Homo sapiens: one gene and its partner. The protein of the gene in region 1 interacts with the protein of each later gene in a biochemical or structural test. Each region holds a gene or a part of one and is shown in the gene's direction. Other genes may lie near its edges.

Region 1 (9,980 bases):
GCAAGACTCTGTCTCAAAACAAAAAACAAACAAACAAACAAAAAACAAACCAAGATCCAACTATATGTCTACAGGAGACACATTTTAGAGTCAATGATACAAAGCATGTAAATAGTAATCACGTGAGAACTGAAATAGCTACATTAATATCAGACAAAATAGACTTTAAAACAATGTTACTAGAGAAAAAGAGAAACATTTTTAATGATAAAAGGATAAACCCACAAGGAAGATGTAACAATTTACAAGGATAGATGCACCTAGTAACAGAATATATGTAGCAAAAACTGACAGAAATGAAGGGACAAATTGATACCTCAAGAACAGAAGATTAAGTCTTTCATACTCCTGTTCCAACTAGTTAGACTCCACAACAGGTAACATGACTGAAACAGAACTCTATTTAGTTTCCCCCAACTTTCAGTCTCTATCTTGGTAAGTAGCAACTGTATCTGTTTAACTGCCCAAACCAAAATTCTTTAAGTCACTTTCTCTTGAATTCCACATCCCATCAATCAGTGAATCCTATAACTTCTCCCTTCAAAATATATCCAGAACCCAATCATTTTTCCCTACTTACACCCTGATCGAAACTAACACCATCTCTCACAGAGATTACTTAAATACTCTCCTAATTGGATTGCATCTTCCTCCCCTGGTCCCTTGCAGTCTATCTCCATATGGCAGCCAAATGAGCCTTCTAAAACAAATCAGGTCACTCCTCAACCCTGAACTTACTCTGTCCAGTAAACTTTTTTTTCAAAATAATTATTTTTATTTTTATTTTATAGAGATAGGGTTTCCCTATGTTGCCCAGGCTGGCTCGAACTCCTGGGCTTAAGGGATCTTTCCACTTCAGCCTCCCAAAGTGACACAATTACAGGCCTGAGCCACTATGCCCAACCTGTCCAGTACACTTTCAGTGAAATCTAAATCCTACAAACTCCCTTTCCTGCATTACTTCCTACTCCCTTAATCACCCTACTCTCATCGCACTGGCCTCTGCCATTTTCAGCAAGTTGATAAACCCAATTTATAATATAATTCTATTTTTAGAAAACACTACAGGCCCAGCACGGTGGCTCATGCCTGTAATCCCAGCACTTTGGGAGGCTGAGGCGAGTGGATCACGAGGTCAGGAGTTCGAGACCAGCCTGGCCAAGATGGTGAAACCCCGTCTCTACTAAAAATATAAAAATTAGCCGGGCGCAGCGGCGGGCGCCTGTAATCCCAGCTACTCGGGAGGCTGAGGCAGGAGAATTGCTTGAACCCGTGAGGCGGAGGTTGCAGTGAGCCGAGGTCGCACCATTGCACCCTAGCCTGAGCAACAGAGCAAGACTCCGTTTCAAAAAATAAAAATAAAATAAAATAAAATAAAACCACTACATATATATGCATAAAAAAGGATTGCCCAAAATGTGACTATTCACCTACGGTTAGCAGGATTATAAATTTTAATTTTTAAAAAGTTTTTCCTATTGTGAAAAATTATTTCTAATTCATGTGTTACTTATAATAAAGTATATGAAAAGCTGTGTATCAAACACACAATATATTGTATAAAATATATGAAAAGCTGTGGATCAAACCCCATACCCCTACTGTGGTTAATAGTATTTAAGTATATTCAAAATCTGGAAATAAATCATACATGTCACCAAAAAACCACAACAAAAGAAAAATTTGCCTGCAGTAATACAGCATTTACTAACAATACATGCTGCAGGCACTTCCACTCATTATTTCATCTTACTCTCATAATAATTCTATGCAATCAGAACCATTATCCCCATGTTACTGTGTAAAATGAGGCTCAAAAAAGTTAAACTCTTTGAAATTGCACAGTAAGTTGTGAAGCCCAGGTCTGCCTGACTTGAATGCTCACGTTCTAAATACTAATCTAGCTACTGCCTCATCACATAGTAGTTACAAGCAACAGTGCAAAGTTGAAATAACCTAGACATACAATAACAAAGGAAAAAGAGTGTAGTTATAAAAATGCTTACTGAAACTAGAATTATGTATGTAAAAATTGGGAGACATGTTACATGAAAGAGCAAACTATCATATTCTACACGTGAGTACAAGAAAATTTAACATTTCATATGGAAAAAAGCCAAAATAAACCAATATATTCAAGTTGGTTCAGTGTGGGTAATGGAACTCTGGGTGATTTTCATTGTTTTGCTTTGTTATCCTTTGGTTTGCACCAAAATTGCTTCAATACTAACAACAAAAACAACAAAAACAAATTACGTTCTCATAAACTTTGTTTTGTAACAAAGGAAAATTCTGCCCAGTGTTCCAAACACCTCAAAGTTCCAAGTCTAGGTCTAAACCAGAGTCGTTAAGTATTCTCTGAAAAGCGATCTACTCTTAATTGACATCTGGCGACTCTACATGGACCAATGGCTTCCTCCGCAGGATGTTATGATCTTTATTTTGTTTGTAGCCTACGGAAGAATGAGCCTATTAAGAGCTTATTGAGATTGATGATTGCACAGTGTAGCTTGAAAGGTCCAAATTTAATCCGTTTCAACGGGAGGAACAAAATTCAAAACTGTTTTCAAAGTATTTCGAGAATGTGTCCCTTATCTGGAAGTAATACTTAAAACGAAGCAAACAAAGACGGTAAGAGAAAGTCACAAATGCAAGCTCGCGCCCGAAGCCAGCCTCGGGCAGGTACACTTTGGTGTGGTGTGGCGGCGGCAGGGCGCCAAGCGCCGTGGTTTTTACGGTCTCGTCAGCAAGCAGGGCCGACCTCCGCTTTATCGGACAGGACCAACGCAGGATCCGGGGCGCGGCGGCGACAGGGCCCCGAGGCAGATGCCCGAGCTAGAACTCTGGCGCCTACTTACTCCTCGGCCGGCCCGGCTGCTCCGAAAAACGACCTCACAGGAATGGCTGCAAGAGCGCCGCCGCCGGCAGGGGCTGAGGAGAACGAGCCTGGGGCTCCGGGCCCAGAGATGAGACGCTCTGGCTGGGAAGCAAGGAGCATCGGCACCGACGGATAGAGGCCGGTGGCCCTCAGGTTGAGCAGGCGGCTTCGGGGCGGGGAGAGAAGGGACCAAGGCCCACCGCAGGCCTCAGATCCTCCCACGCCTCCCCGCTGCTACCCAACGATGACGCAAGTACGCATGCGCCTCCCCAGCTGCCGCTGGGAAGAGCGCGCTCCCCAGGGCCCCGCCCCCTCCAAGGATTTCCGGGGAGGCGGGTTCCACTGCTGACTTACCGGTTTTACTCCTCTGCTCAAAAGGCGCCTGCCCGAGGCCGCTTTCCGTTGCAAAGGTTCCTGAATTTGGGGAGGAAGAGCAGCAAGACTGAAATATTGGGCATACGTTTGTTGCTTCATAAACGTTTGCTGAATGAATAAACTGATACGCCGATGTTTGCTTTAATTGTAACTCCCCCTGCCGCAGTTCCCAGTCTTTGAAAATTACAACAGCAACATAGTTTTGGGCGTGTCCTTGACAAATGTGTTTCATTCCCCAGGTAGTACCGTGCAAGTGAACTTGGTGAGAATTTTTTCAAGGAAATTTTTGCCAGCATCGATTTTTGAAACTTAGTTTTTACCATGCTCTTTAAAAAAATAAACACTTGGTTTGTTCAAATACCAACTTTAGTCACACAATCTGGCTTCAGCACCTATTGTTCGGGCCCCATATATCGTTCTCCACACTTAGGATGCTTCATCTCCACATAAAGCATAACTGCAAAATACACAGGGCAGAAGGAGACCTGGGAGATAATACTATGGTTGCAGAAATTAAGACCAGCCTGAGCTCTCGACAACAAGAAAGAGACACAGCGAAAACAAGGCATTTATTTATAATAGGCTCTTGCAAGCAAGGAAAAATAAGGCATTTTCTGATTCGAACGTAGTGCTCTATTACCCCTACTCAACAAACATTTGAATGCCAAAGAGCTGTGAGGGTGGATGCTTAACAAGCAGATGCTAAGCGAGGTTATATTTTTGTAGGAAGCAGCCTGATAAGAAAAGAGCAGATTTTCGAGTCAGATTTTAGTTCAAAAATCAGCTTTGTACTTGGGAACTCAATCATAAGCAAATTACCTTACCTCTTAGTGTCGGTTTGTTCATGTGTAAAACGTGTTAATAGTACCTGACCCAATCTCTTGCCTTCAAGTATATCACTCTATTTCCAAGATGAGATCTCTCACAGTTCTACTACGTACACCGTTAATTTTAACATTATTTAAAAATAGTTTACTAAGTTTATTTCATTTATTTATTTGAGACGGCGTTTTTGCTTTTGTTGCCCAGGCTGGAGTGCAATGGCGCGATCTCGGCCTCCCGGGTTCAAGCGATTCTCTTGCCTCAGCCTCCCGAGTAGCTGAGACTACAGGCGCCACCACGCCGGCTAATTTTTTGTATTTTTAGCAGAGACGGAGTTTCGCTATGTTGGCCAGGCTGGACTCGAACTCTTGAGTTCAGGCAATCCGCCCGCCTCGGCCTCCCAAAGTGCTAGAGGATTGCAGGCGTGAGCCACCGCGCCCGGCCCTAACATTTCAAAACGTTTGGAATTCAGGCAACAAGAGACATTTTGTAAGAACATTTAAAACCCTTCTCCCCTGGAAATCAAGAGATATGTATGGAGTCTGGAGATTCCGAACTCAATTTTCTAGGACAAAGGCAAACTCAGATGATTACAAGAATGAAAGTGATCGTCACGCTGCTTCCAGGTTCCAAAGTATGGATAATTTTTTTTTTTTTTTTGAGATGGAATCTTGCTCTGTCGCCCAGGCTGGAGTGCAGTGGCGTGATCTCAGTGCAAACTCCGCCTCTCGGGTTCAAGCGATTCTCCTGCCTCAGCCTCCGGAGTAGCTGGGATTATAGGCGAGCGCCACCACGCCCAGCTAATTTTTTGTATTTTTAATAGAGACGGGGTTTCACCATGTTGGCCAGGCTGGTCTCCAAATCCTGGCCTCAGGTGATCCGCCCGCCTCGGCCTCCCAAGGTGCTGGGATTACAGGGGTGAGCCACAGCGCCAGGCGAGAAATATTTTTTTAAAGAGGAATTAAAGAACCTAATTGGTTTTGAGAGTTCTCCAAGAGCCAGTAAATGTTTTCCCCACAATATTCCATTCTACCCCATTACTGTAGAGTCGTTATAGAAGAAAACAAAATCACATAACGCAACTTGGGCCAAAAAACATTACACGTTCCAATTACGGAAATAACGAACTGAATCGTGTCACCCTTGAACTATGTAAAAGTTGAAAAGATGTTCAGTGTTAAATGTAGTAACAGTTCCACATTAAAAGATATTTACGTTCGAGTTTACAGTATTTAAAAATGCCTTTCTACACACTTTCCCGGGAAGTTAATGCCACTTCAGTTGAGCTGTCTAGCGAGATGGTTAAGCATTTACTGTGTCTCTAACACCGACCAGGGGAAAAATCATCAATTCGTTTGCCCGAGTTTAAGAGAATTTTCACCTAACTTCTAATCTCCACAGCCAATCAGTTCTTGGAACCGCACACCCGATGCCGACATCCCTCTCTTGTTGGCTCCCCTCGTTAGCGGGATTCAATAACTAAACGTCCATTTCTAGCATTGACTGAAGAGCTCAAGCTTGACACTCGACCTCAATCCTTAGCAGCACCGCCCACCATGCTCCCGGAAGCTGCGACACTACGCCCTGCGCTAGTCCCGGGACGTGGGGTTTTATATCCGGATTCTTAGCGCGGACTCAGAACCCAGCTCTTCCCTACACGGTCGGCACATGCGCGGCAGCTCTTTTCCTTCTTCCTCCACTTCCCCTACCCTCCACCGTCCGGGAGCCGCCGCCACCGCCGCCGAGGAGTCAGGAAGTTCAAGATGGCCGCCGCGGAGACCCAGTCGCTACGGGAGCAGCCAGAGTAAGTAGTCTCTGTGAGTGGGCCAGAAGCTGGAGCCCGGGGACTGCCGAGTGGGAGCTGCACGGGGTGGCGGGAAAGTTCGGGCCTAACGGCGAGAGTCAAACTTTGCTTTTTCCGGCGCGATTCGTTGTGGGGTGGGAGGCATGGGGAGCAGGCGGCCTTCGAGCTTCCTTCTCCCAGAGGCCGTGGCTGCTGGGGTGAAGGCGGCCGCGGCCTGCCGCGCGTCGTTGCCCCGGGAGGCGTAGGCGCGAGCGGCCTCTACAGGTCCGGTGCGCGTGGCGGCTGCCGCGGCAGTGAGGTCGCGCTTTCCTATGCCTCTTTTGGGGACCCATCTGAGCTCCCTGGCCGCAGCTCTTAGCGGCATCTGTGTTGGGGACACGAGGGTCAGTGGCAGCAGGCGGGCCAAGCCCTAAGTCTTTTCTTCCTCATGCGGTACCCCCAGTCGTCCTTTTACTGGTGTCAGTTTAGGACCTGAAAGCAGAGAGCGGAGGTGCTGGGGTCACACTCTCTGGCCATCCCAGAGCTAGTCTGTGGCTAGCGGGATACTTGATCTCGTCACCTTGTACTCTTTAGTCCAGCAGTCACCCAGTATTGTTTTGTTTTGTTTTGAGTGCCTACCGGCAGCTTTTTTACCAACTTGCAAACTTGAGGCAAAGTAAGATAGAGTCTTTGGTTTTGAGGCCTGGCATTTTTTTTTTTTTTTTTTTTTTGCCTGAGTTTATAACCCTTCTTTAGGAGGACGAGTGGAAGGAGTAGTGGGAATTGCTAGCTACTGCCAAACCACTTTATGTCTATAATTAAGCTAACATTAAGAATCCATGCGGCCAAATGAAAAATGAAAAAAAAAAAAATACGAGTGTATGCTGCAAAGGTTAACCATTGGTTAACTTAAAGCAGTATTTTGCTGTTCATGTCTATGTTAGGAAAACTCAAACAAGAACCTTAACAGAGAGAATGGATTTTACGGCAATGTTCCTATAGCGACCGTTTTTTTTTTTTGTTTTGTTTTTTGTTTTTTTTTGCATCTGCACTGTCTGATCTGTTTCCAGCCATCTTAGAAAGAGGTATAGTCTCCCAGCAACTTGTGACTGAGCGATAGAAGAAATCTTTGCCACCAGACAACCTGACACTTAATTGCTGTGCATCCAGTTTTGGGCTCCTCAATCATCTGCATTACTCAGCTAGGCAGAGAAACGGAATTTTTAATTAAGGGCTTTTCAAAACTGCTGTATTATTTTTACAATTTGACTTAGCAGAGAACAAATGGATTCTGAAGTTTTAAATTAGCTTTAACCTCTTACTGTTTCTCACCAAGTTCATTGTGTGGCACAATTACAGTGTTTATGCCAGTACCGTGCAGATCTCATGCTATGTGGTTACATTTTCTACTAATCTGAAAAGTTCTGTAATATTATGTCCATTTATTTGATTTTAGGGATGTTTCAGATTCATTTCCAGGAGTGGGTCAGCCATAGTTTATTCACATACTGTATTCAAATAATATTAGACTTAATAATTTCAAAAATACATATTTAGGCCTCTGCTGTATGAGTAACAGAGATAATCTTTAATTTCCCTTCCCTTCCCCACAGAGCACTTGGTGTAAATGGAATATTTGGTCTGTATATGTCTCACTTTCAGTAGTTTGAAAGTATTTAACAAAGAAGATAACCATTTGGTATGAAAGCAAACTATGCCTGGTGCTCATAGTGAGTCCCTGAATATAGTGTCTACAACAGTTCTTTAGAGAACACTGAGTAGTTTACAGTTATATAGAATCTATTCAAAACAGAAAATTTAGAAAGAATAAATATAAGAAGCAGCTTTTAAGCTCCCTGAAGGCTTTAATTCTTTTAACAACCCTATGGAGGTAGATACGTTTATTTTCCTTATTTTAGAGATGATGAAACTGAAACACAGAGAAATTAAGTAACTTGCTCAAGGTCACACTCAGTGGCACACCCATTTAAACTCAGGCAGTCTGGTTCTAAAGCCCTGCTGCTAACTATTGTACTGTCTGGCCTCCCACTATACAATGTGGCTTCTTTTTAAATTGCTTGTCAAGTATGAAATTATTTTTGTTTTTTTCCACTGTCCCAGAAAGATACATTTTTTGATGTGACATGTCTAATTTATTGAGAACTAATTTCTCAAACCTGATTTGGCAAAGCAGAGACCAGAGGGAATGTTTTAAGACTAGTTGGTCTTTTGGACCCATTCTGATTTTTATAGCTACATTAATTCTTTTTGTTCATTTTATTTATTTTTGAAACACGAGCTCTTGTCACCCAGACTGGAGTACAGTAACATTATCATGGCTCATTGTAGCCTCAGCCTCAAGTGATCCTCCTACTCCAGCCTCCGGAGTAGCTGGGACCACAGGCATATGACACCATGCCCAGCTAATTTTTTTTTTTTTGAGACGGAGTTTCACTTTCTCTCCAGGCTAGATTGCAGTGGTGCGATCTTGGCTCACTGAAACCTTGGACTCCCTGGTTCAAGCAGTTCTCCTGCCTCAGCCTCCCGAGTAGCTGGGATTACAGGCACGTACCACCACGCCCAGCTAATTTTTGTATTTTTAGTAGAGATGGGGTTTCACCTTGTTGGCCAGGATGGTCCCGATCTCCTGACCTCGTGATCCGCCCACCTCAGACTCCCAAAGTTCTGGGATTACAGGCGTGAGCTACCGTGCCGAGCCATGCCTAGCTAATTTTTAAGTATTTTTGTAGAGGCAGAGTCTTCCCATGTTGCCCAGGCTGTTCTTGAACTACTGGGCTCAAGTGCTGCAGGTACTAGGGAGTCTGAGGCAGGAGGATCATTTGAGCCTAGGAGTTTGAATCTAGCCCAGGCAACATAGTGAGACCCAGTTTCTTAAAAGATATATACATTTTAACTTGTCAGAGAAATAGGCTTAATTACTTTCCTGGTAAATAGCAGTGGCGTTCACTTTGCTCGCCACTAAAAAAAAATTTAAAGAATTGTCTAGCTTAAAAACGGCTTTATTCATACACAAATTTAAATCAGTCAGTTCTCTGTGTCTCTGTATATTTTGAATGCCTACCAAATAAATTCACTAAGACTATTGTTTGGAAAAAAATGTGAAAGAAGAAGTTAAAATAACACTGGTGGTTGGTGATTGGTGACTATTTTATTTTTTTGAGACCGAGTCTCTGTTGCCCAGGCTGGAGTGCAGTAGCGCAATCTTGGCTCACTGCAACCTCTGCGTCCCAGGTTCAAGTGATTCTCCTGTCTCTGTCTCCCGAGTAGCTGGGATTACAGGCACGCACCACCATGCCGTGCTAATTTTTGTATTTTTAGTAGAGACGGGATTTCACCATATTGGCCAGGCTGGTCTCAAACTCCTGACCTCAGGTGATCCGCCAGTCTCAGCCTCCCAAAAGTGTTGGGATTACAGTCATAAGCCACTGCACCTGACCGTGACTATGTTATTTTAAAGGCGTTCCACGATTTTCATTCATTGTGCTGGGTGCCTCAAGACATGGGTTTTTTAAAAGGTAAAACTTAACAAAACAAATAAATACTGTTAAGCAACCCCATGTTGTCTGCACTTCTCATTCACCTTTGCTTCCAAATAATGTGATCTGAAGAATGTTATCCAATATTCAATAGGTTCTCAATAAATATTTTGTGATAAACCTGTTGTGACCAGGTTGGTATACACATCCACTTGGCTAAATGTGGGATATTAAATTGTAAAATGTTAATGTTAAAGCGTAAATTTATATAAATGAAATATATATGGCCTATATTTATTGTCAGTATAAACTATCCAAGAGGGCCGTTAGGTTTCTTAACAAGAAACCTTTTTCTTGAGCTTTAGAAGAAAGTCGTTGATGATAAAGCTAATTTAGCTGTTTTAGCACAGGCCCATTGTATGTAATACATTATGCCATTGACTCAATGTTTCAAGTTTTCCAGATTGACCTGGTCAGACTTTAGTTGTGATTTGTGACATTTGCATTGAGAGATGAGTTGAGACTGGTAAAGATCCATTGTATGCCTAGCCCCTGTATAAGAAAATGCTATAATTAAGGTTAACCTGATTGTACCGAGCTGGTAGCATTTTTAGCAGGAACCTAC
Region 2 (7,458 bases), on another chromosome or scaffold:
TTGGAAGTGCACAGGGCTCCGGCAGCGGGGTGGCGGGGAGTTGGGAAGAATGCAGATTTCCGGGCCCCTGATGCCGACCTAGTACACACAGTTCCAGCGTGCAGTTGGGAGTGCATGTTACCGGTACCCCAGGTGACCCATTATGAGAGTTGAACTGCCCAGAAACCTGCCTCTGGAGGGAGTCTGGTTCAGCATCTGGTGGAGGGCACCCCTGGGAAGCCCATTTCCAGCCCCTTCCCAGGTGTGCAGAGCATAAGTAACTGGTGTTCCTCAAGGGAGAAGAGGAGCTTGCTGTTGGGGGAGAAAAGAGCATCTTGCAGAAGGGAGAAACCCAGGCAGGCCTCAGGGATGACTGAGAAGGCAGGGCACAAGGTGATGGCTTTGCTGCAGCCGTGGGCTCTGAGGTGTCCGTGGTTTGTGGGCCTCTAGCAGCATTGTGGGGTCTCTGCAGTCAGTGACTGAGGTCATGCCGGGCCCCGTACTCCATTAGGCTCGGGAAGGTGCCCCCGCCCCACTTCCCGCATTTCCAGGATCCACAGTAATTTCATGGCAGAGGGTGAATATCACAACCAGGAAGGTGGCCAGCTGCTCTGTGCTGTTCCTCTATGTGACCAGGGACCGGTTCCCAGATCTCCCTGCAACTTGGTGATGTCTGCCCTGACCACCTGCAAAGTCTTCAGGGACATGAGGTCAAGTATGTGAAGACCCTTTGAGAAGTGCAAGGGTCAGCCTTGACTCTGGAGGCACTTGTGGTCCCTTGGCCGTGGCTCTGCTCTGATTTTCCACCCCCACTCTCTGAACAGCTGCATGCTAAGAGCTTTCTGTCCTGGTTAGCTGTGTAGCAGTGTGGTTTCCCACTCCCACTCTTCCAGGAGTTATCCTGTGGACACATTGGTCTCTGTCACATTTAGGTAATTGTTGATATTATAACAATGCGTAATAACACAAAACCAAGAAAAACATCTTTGCAGCTCGTGCTACTTTATTATTTGGCCAATTAGAACTTCCGAGTCCAGACCTGGAAAGTTTGCTAAGAGGGGCTTAGGGGAGCAGCAAGACCAGGAGCAGATTTTCTTGGAACCTGAGGTGCTTTGATGCAGGAATTCAAGGACTCACCTTCGATAGGTCAGGCTGGGGCCCTCTTGAGGGCAGACTGGTTGCCCAGATCCTGCCTCTGGAGAGTCCTGCGTGTTGTCCTGAATGGGGAGACTTGGCAGGCCCCCAGCAGAATGGCCACTTGGTCTTTCTTGGCAGAGAGACCCTGAATACATTTCTACCTATTTGTTCCCACAGAGAATTGTTTTCAAAACTGCTCTGTGCCCTGTTTTCCCTCCAGCGCTGGAGTCAAAACATCTCTCTGCATGCTGGGCCCTTTCTGGGTTCTGGGGGTCCCATGGAAAGGTGGGCACAGTGGCGTGCCCAGCCTTCCCTCCTGCAGAACCCGAGGCATGTTTGTGGTCACCTGGCCCTGTTTGGGGTGGAGGAGGGAAGTAGAGTAAGATCACATTCTGTCAGCCATTTCCTGTGATAATTTGGGTGGGGTTCACCTGAAATTTATCTTTACCCACTGAAGCAAGGATTTGATCCTGACAGATTATTGCGACCCCTCCCCCAGGGCACACTCTGGCTTTAGAGACTTGTTTCCAAGCACACCGCCCCTTGGGCTCCCTGCAGGTCCTCCCTGATGCTGCTGCCTGGGAAAGCAGAGCAGAGGGCATCTGGCAGAGCAGAGGGCATCTGGGTGGGATCTCCTTTACCCAGGGCAAAGCCAGGCTTGTTGGTGGCCTGTGCTTTGTTCAGAGACACACACAGGCCAGTGGCTCAGCACGCCCACCCCTCCCTCTCGTACCCTCGCTGTCCCAGGCTGCCAGTGGCCCTAGTTGTGAAACTCCTCAAACAATGCAGAAATGTATGCAGCATGGGAGGTGCCAGCCTGCACCACCACCAAACCACTGTTACCCCGCGTTGGTGTTTTTCTTTACAGACCTTCTAGATGGATTTGCACATATGCATATGTGTGTGTCCACGTAGACATTTTGAAACATACTTAAATAGGATCCTAGCAAGTATCTCACTGCTGGCATTTTGTTCCATGTGTTTGCTTAAATGAGGCATCTTCATTCTTTTTCACAGCCGCATGGTATTCCAAGATGTGGTTATATGGCTGCATTGTAACTTATTTACCCTTCACTTATGGAAAGGACAGCTACATTGCCTTTTTTTTGTTTTTTCTGCTATTACAAGTTGTGTAGTAGTGGACTCTGGTGTGTGTGTGTCTTGGTGCAGAGGAGCTGGCATTTCTGTAGGATTGAGACCTAGTGGTGGTATTGACAGGGTTGATAAGTGTTGGTTAAATGTGTTGTGGAGTTACTGTGTTATGTTTTTCAAGGAAAGAGACCACACTTGTTAGTCCCCGCTCTGAGGGAGAGACCTATTGTGTCACGACTCCACCTTCTTGAAAATGTTTCCTTCTCCCAATTCTCCTTTTGCATGTGTGAGAACATTGAGAACGTTTAAAACAGTACCAGCAAAACCACTGTCACTCCCGCACGCCTGGTGGCTGGCTCTCTTGGCCATCTTCAGTTCTGGTTTTACAGAGATTGGAAAGTGTGTGGTGGGCGCTCAGCCCTGGAGCAGTAGGATGGGGGCTGGTGTGGCGCCATCTCCACTCCCCCCTTCCCCCTCGCTGAAAGAAGGCTGGAAGCTGTGCTGCCTGAGCAAACTGATAGGACGCAGTTCATTAAACCAGTAGCCTGTGTCTGGGGCTTCACATGTCTGGAACACAGCAGAGATGGGGGCCTGATCCTTCTGAGTAGGTGCCCTGAAGCCCAATTCTCAAGCTTCTGACAGCCTCCTGCCCTTAGATCCTGTGTGCTCCCACTTTACACATAGCTTTAATCTGATTGGTTACTGGGGAAGGGCAAAAGACATGGATGGCAGCTAAAGGCAGGGGAAGAAACAAACCAGCAGGTTGTTAACATATGCATGTGTAAGTGTGTGTGTTTAAATGGGTCATGAAGAAGCCCTACAGTCAACCAGCACTGGAACAAGCATGGGGCCATTTGTGGAGAGGCACATGTTTCTCCGCAGCAATCCCTGAGGTCTGCATGAGAGACCCTGGAATAATGAACACTCTAGCAGGGATCTTGAGATACCATGGCACTGTGAAGTGTGTTCAGTTTGTGCTTTCAGGAAGCAATTAAAATAGTTTTAAAAATAAAAACTTCTAGAATAGTACACTCAACTTTCACAATCCTAAGACTTCCAGACTGTTTGCTCTAGGGGCCAGGCATCATTCTGTTTGTGTTAGTTTACATCAAGCTATCTAATCTTCACAAGGACCCTATGAAGTAGGCTCTATTATTAATACTAAATTTCAAATAAGGAAGCTAAGGCTCCAGTGCTTTAGGAATCATGCCCAAGGTCACACAGTAAGTGAGGGTGGAACAGGGATTGGAGCTGGGGCTTGAGCCTGGGCAGCCGCCCCCGAGGTGGGTGTACCTGCTGTGTCCTACTGCCACTCCTGTCTGGACCAGTGTTTCAGGTCACTGCAGGTGAGCAGGGCCCTGTGGTAGTAGAAATCTGGATGTCCCCAGCACACGGCTTCCCGCACAGATTTTTGCTGCTTCTTAAAGGTTGAGGGAGTAGTATAGTGAACACTCCTATACTCTTCCCATAGGGTCATTGGGTAATATTTTGCCACATTTTTCTCCTTTCCTCCTTCTCTTTTTCTTTCTAAAGAAAGAAAAATTAATTTTTTGTCTATATTTTTCTCCCTTTTCCATCTCGCCTCTCTCTTTAAATATTATATATTATCTGATACGCAGTCCATATTCAGTTCCCCTAGTGATTCCTAAAATGTCCAGTATAGGATTCAGGATCCAGTTAATCACACATTGCATTTGGTTGTCCTCTCTAGTTTCCCTTAGTTTAGGATAGTTTCCCATCTTTTGGTCCTTTATTATGTTACGCTGGCATTTGAAGGCCCAAAGCCAGTTGTCTTGTAGAACAACTCACAATGTGGATTGGTCTGATTGTTTCCCGTGATCAGGTCTGGTTTAAACAAATTTTGGTCCAAAATATGGCACAGGTGATACTGGGCACTTCCATCGCCTCATGGGGGGGGGAGGGCATGGGATATTAGCCTGTCCTACTGCAGGATCACATGGTTAAGGTGGGCGGCCAGGCTCAGCCCCTTCTGTCCACCTGGTTGGTTTCTACTCCATCTTCCAGCTTCCTTGACTGGAGAGATGTTGGGGGTTGGGTTCAGCTTTGGAAGGCTTTTGAAGTCAAAGGACCACCTGGAGGAGGCCTAGGTGCTCCTTTCCCCAAACAGACAAGACACCCTGATTTTCTTTTGAATGAAAATGGCTCCAGATGGTATTAATAGCCAGCTCAAGGGTAACTGTGAGTGTGTTCTTGGTCAGCCCACCTGAATGCCGGCCCTGTGGCCACAGGCAGCCTGTCTCCTAGGGCTGGGGAGGGCCTACGGCGGGTGACACTCTCTAAGTCCTGGTGAGTCTTTATGTGCTTTCAAGAAATAAACAAAAATTGTCCTAAGTCCACACACCTGAACCTGTTTTTCTTTTCTTTCTTTCTTTTTTTTTTTTGAGACGAAGTCTTGCTCTTGTCCCCCAGGCTGGAGTGCAATGGCACAATCTCGGCTCACTGCAACCTCCGCCTCCCGGGTTCAAGTGATTCTCCTGCCTCAGCCTCCCAAGTAGCTGGGATTACAGGCGCCTGCCACCGTGCCCAGCTAATTTTTGTATTTTTAGTAGAGACGGGGTTTCACCATGTTGGCCAGGCTGGTTTCGAACTCCTGACCTCAGGTGATCTGCCCACCTCGGCCTCCCAAAGTGCTGGGATTACAGGCATGAGCCACCACACCCGACCTTTTCTTTCCTTTCAAAGCCCCAAATGGGATTATTTTCTTGAGAAGTCAACTTCCTGTCGAGATGGGAATAAACTTTTCTCCAGCTTGGCAATTCAGAAGCAGCCACTGTGCTGTGTGGCTGAGGTTGGGGTCATGGAGACAGCCACCAGTGCAGTCCTCGGGGTGGGAGATACTGAGTTCAGAAGGCTTTGGACACTCTTCTGGGCCAAAATAACAGAAACTCGAACTTGTTTTACTCTTGGCATCAATCGGGCACTGGGCACAGAAGAAATCCTCACCCAACCAAAAGCTCTGCCATTTGGCCATAAACACGTATGCCTCCATAGCCACGTACATGTGTAGAAACACATATGGGTGTGTGTGTGAGTGGACGTGGCACCCTGCTCATGCTTGCTGAATGGGGGAGCATCCACACCTGGAACATAGTGGCTATGTGGAACTTCTGATTTCTAGTTCAGTTTTAGATCTTAGGTCCGTCTTCATCCCCAGCAAATGTTACCAGCTGTTTGTGAGGCAGGCTTTTGGGGGAGACATGAAGTTTGTTCAGTTGAAACTAGGGCTGTGGTGAAGGGGCTATGCCTTCACACCCTGCTGCCCTGCCCAGCAGAGTGACCGGCTCCTGTGTCCTCCACACTGCTTCAGTTCCCCTCCTGATGCAGGGCCAGGCTGTGATCGCCATTTGCTGTTGGGCATTGTGTGTGTGTGTATGTGTGTGTGTGTGTGTGTGTGTGTGTGTGTGTGTGTGTGTATGGTGGCGGGGCAGGGGGCGGGGGGAGGGCACAGCATGGCACCGAGCACCAGAAACACAGCCTTGACCAGTCCCTGGTTTTTACCAACATCTTTCTGGACAAACAAGACAGCACACTTGGCAGGGGGAGTATTCTGTTTATTGTTCTCCATTTTTGAAGTTCATCACACAAAAACACTTGCTAACCAGAAACTTGGCTGCACTCCGTGGCCATTGGCCAGTCTGTCCCAAGGTGACTTGTTTGGGGAAGCACTGAAGCTTGATGTCTCAGATTAAATGTCCTTATGCTGGTGCCACAGGGGTGTGGCCTACTCTGCATGGATGGGTGACCCTGGGTCCCCAGGCACAGGGCACAGGCTCGTCTCCTTGAAGCTGGAGCCCACGCTGCATCATGAAAGAGCTCTGCAAGAATTGAAGGCCCAGAGCAAAAATCGCTTACCAAAGAGCATGTGGCTCAGAGCCTACCTTGGCCTCCTGTCTCAGGAGAAACTTCTAAAGGTGGAGTTGTGTCACGTGCTTGTCTCCTGTGAGCACAGGCCAGGTGGGAGGAAGCTTGGGAGTGGGGAGAGGATGACGTGGGCTCAGAGGAGCCACGAGCTTCTCCCCCGACCCCAGCGTACACTGGACACACATGGGAGGTGAGGTGATGCCTGAGCAGCCTGGCGAGTGGTCAGGGCCCTGGGTGGGGCCTCCTCATTCCCTTTTGGAGCACTGGCAGCTAATGCTTGGGGGGGCCACCATCCTTTCCCGGTCTGGCCTCGTTGGGGGACACATCTGTCTTCCTCCTGGAGTAAGGAGAGCCTGTGAACAAAGCAGTGACCCCAAGACCTATGGCCACTGGGGATGGCAGGAGCCTTGTGCTTCCATATGTGGGTCCAAGCTGTGGATGGGGAGGCCAAGTGTCCTGGCATGTGGGAGGTGGTCAGGTGCTCCCTGGAGATCTAACAGGTATGCATGGGTTAGCGAGACCTGAGAGTCCTTCTTGGGCCACACCTAAGTATGTGCAGGGCCTGTGATACAGCCAGAATTTCCTCCTCTGATAAACTTCTCTGAGCCTTTCTACTTGTCTTTAACCCTTTTATTGTCTAAATGCTCACTAAACAAGAAAAATAATACAGGGAACTTGGTTTAGGGGTATTGGTAGAAGTTAAAGTTGATGGCAGAGCATGAATAGGGGTGTCTGCAAGGAATTGTTGGAAAAGAGATTGGAAATAGAGCGAAGGCGTATGTGAGTCTCAGAACCTGACTCCTTTGTTGACTGGGAGTGGGGCAGAGGGCATGGGTCCAGCAGGTCATTGGTCTCGGGTTACCAAAAAGGTTAAGGCTATTCACCTGGGCCACTGGCTGGGGTGCTGCTCAAAGCCAGGATCTGGGAGCCGGGGTCAGCACCTTGGGTGCACCTGGGCATCATAGCAACAACAAACCCCAACACATTTTCAGGGACCAGGGCGGATAAATGGGAGTTAATGACATGGTTCCCACACATCCGAATCTGGGATATGTAAATGTGACACACAGTCTGAGCATTTGGCAGGCTCTCCATGGTCTTGCTTTGCATAGTTTGGCCTATCTGCTCTCCAGACTTACTGCCCCGTTGTCCTCACCTGCATGACTGTCCATGTCTGGTTTGTTTACTCGTCATTGAAGGCATCCACAGGGGTGCCATCTGCCCCCATGTCCCTCTCCCACTAGGCATGCTAAGTGGCCTGCGGCAGGGCAGGCAGGGACTCAGATTCCCTCCATCCCATCGCTGAGGTCTTACTTCCTTCTTCCGCCCGCCTTACACGTGGAAGGTTTCTCCTGTGCTTGTCCACCA

The links.
Region 2: of the proteins of PRP4K (region 1) and KLF13, one has a biochemical effect on the other in vitro, tested with the Homo sapiens proteins (one study listed by IntAct).

What each region holds. Positions count from the first base shown.
Region 1 is NC_000006.12:4,015,588-4,025,567, forward strand, and holds the start of PRP4K (serine/threonine-protein kinase PRP4 homolog), read left to right. Parts: upstream 1-5,712; 5' UTR 5,713-5,838; coding exon 5,839-5,879; intron 5,880-9,980. UniProt on the Homo sapiens protein: Serine/threonine kinase involved in spliceosomal assembly as well as mitosis and signaling regulation. Connects chromatin mediated regulation of transcription and pre-mRNA splicing.
Region 2 is NC_000015.10:31,329,835-31,337,292, forward strand, and holds part of KLF13 (Krueppel-like factor 13), read left to right. Parts: intron 1-7,458. UniProt on the Homo sapiens protein: Transcription factor that activates expression from GC-rich minimal promoter regions, including genes in the cells of the erythroid lineage. Represses transcription by binding to the BTE site, a GC-rich DNA element, in competition with the activator SP1.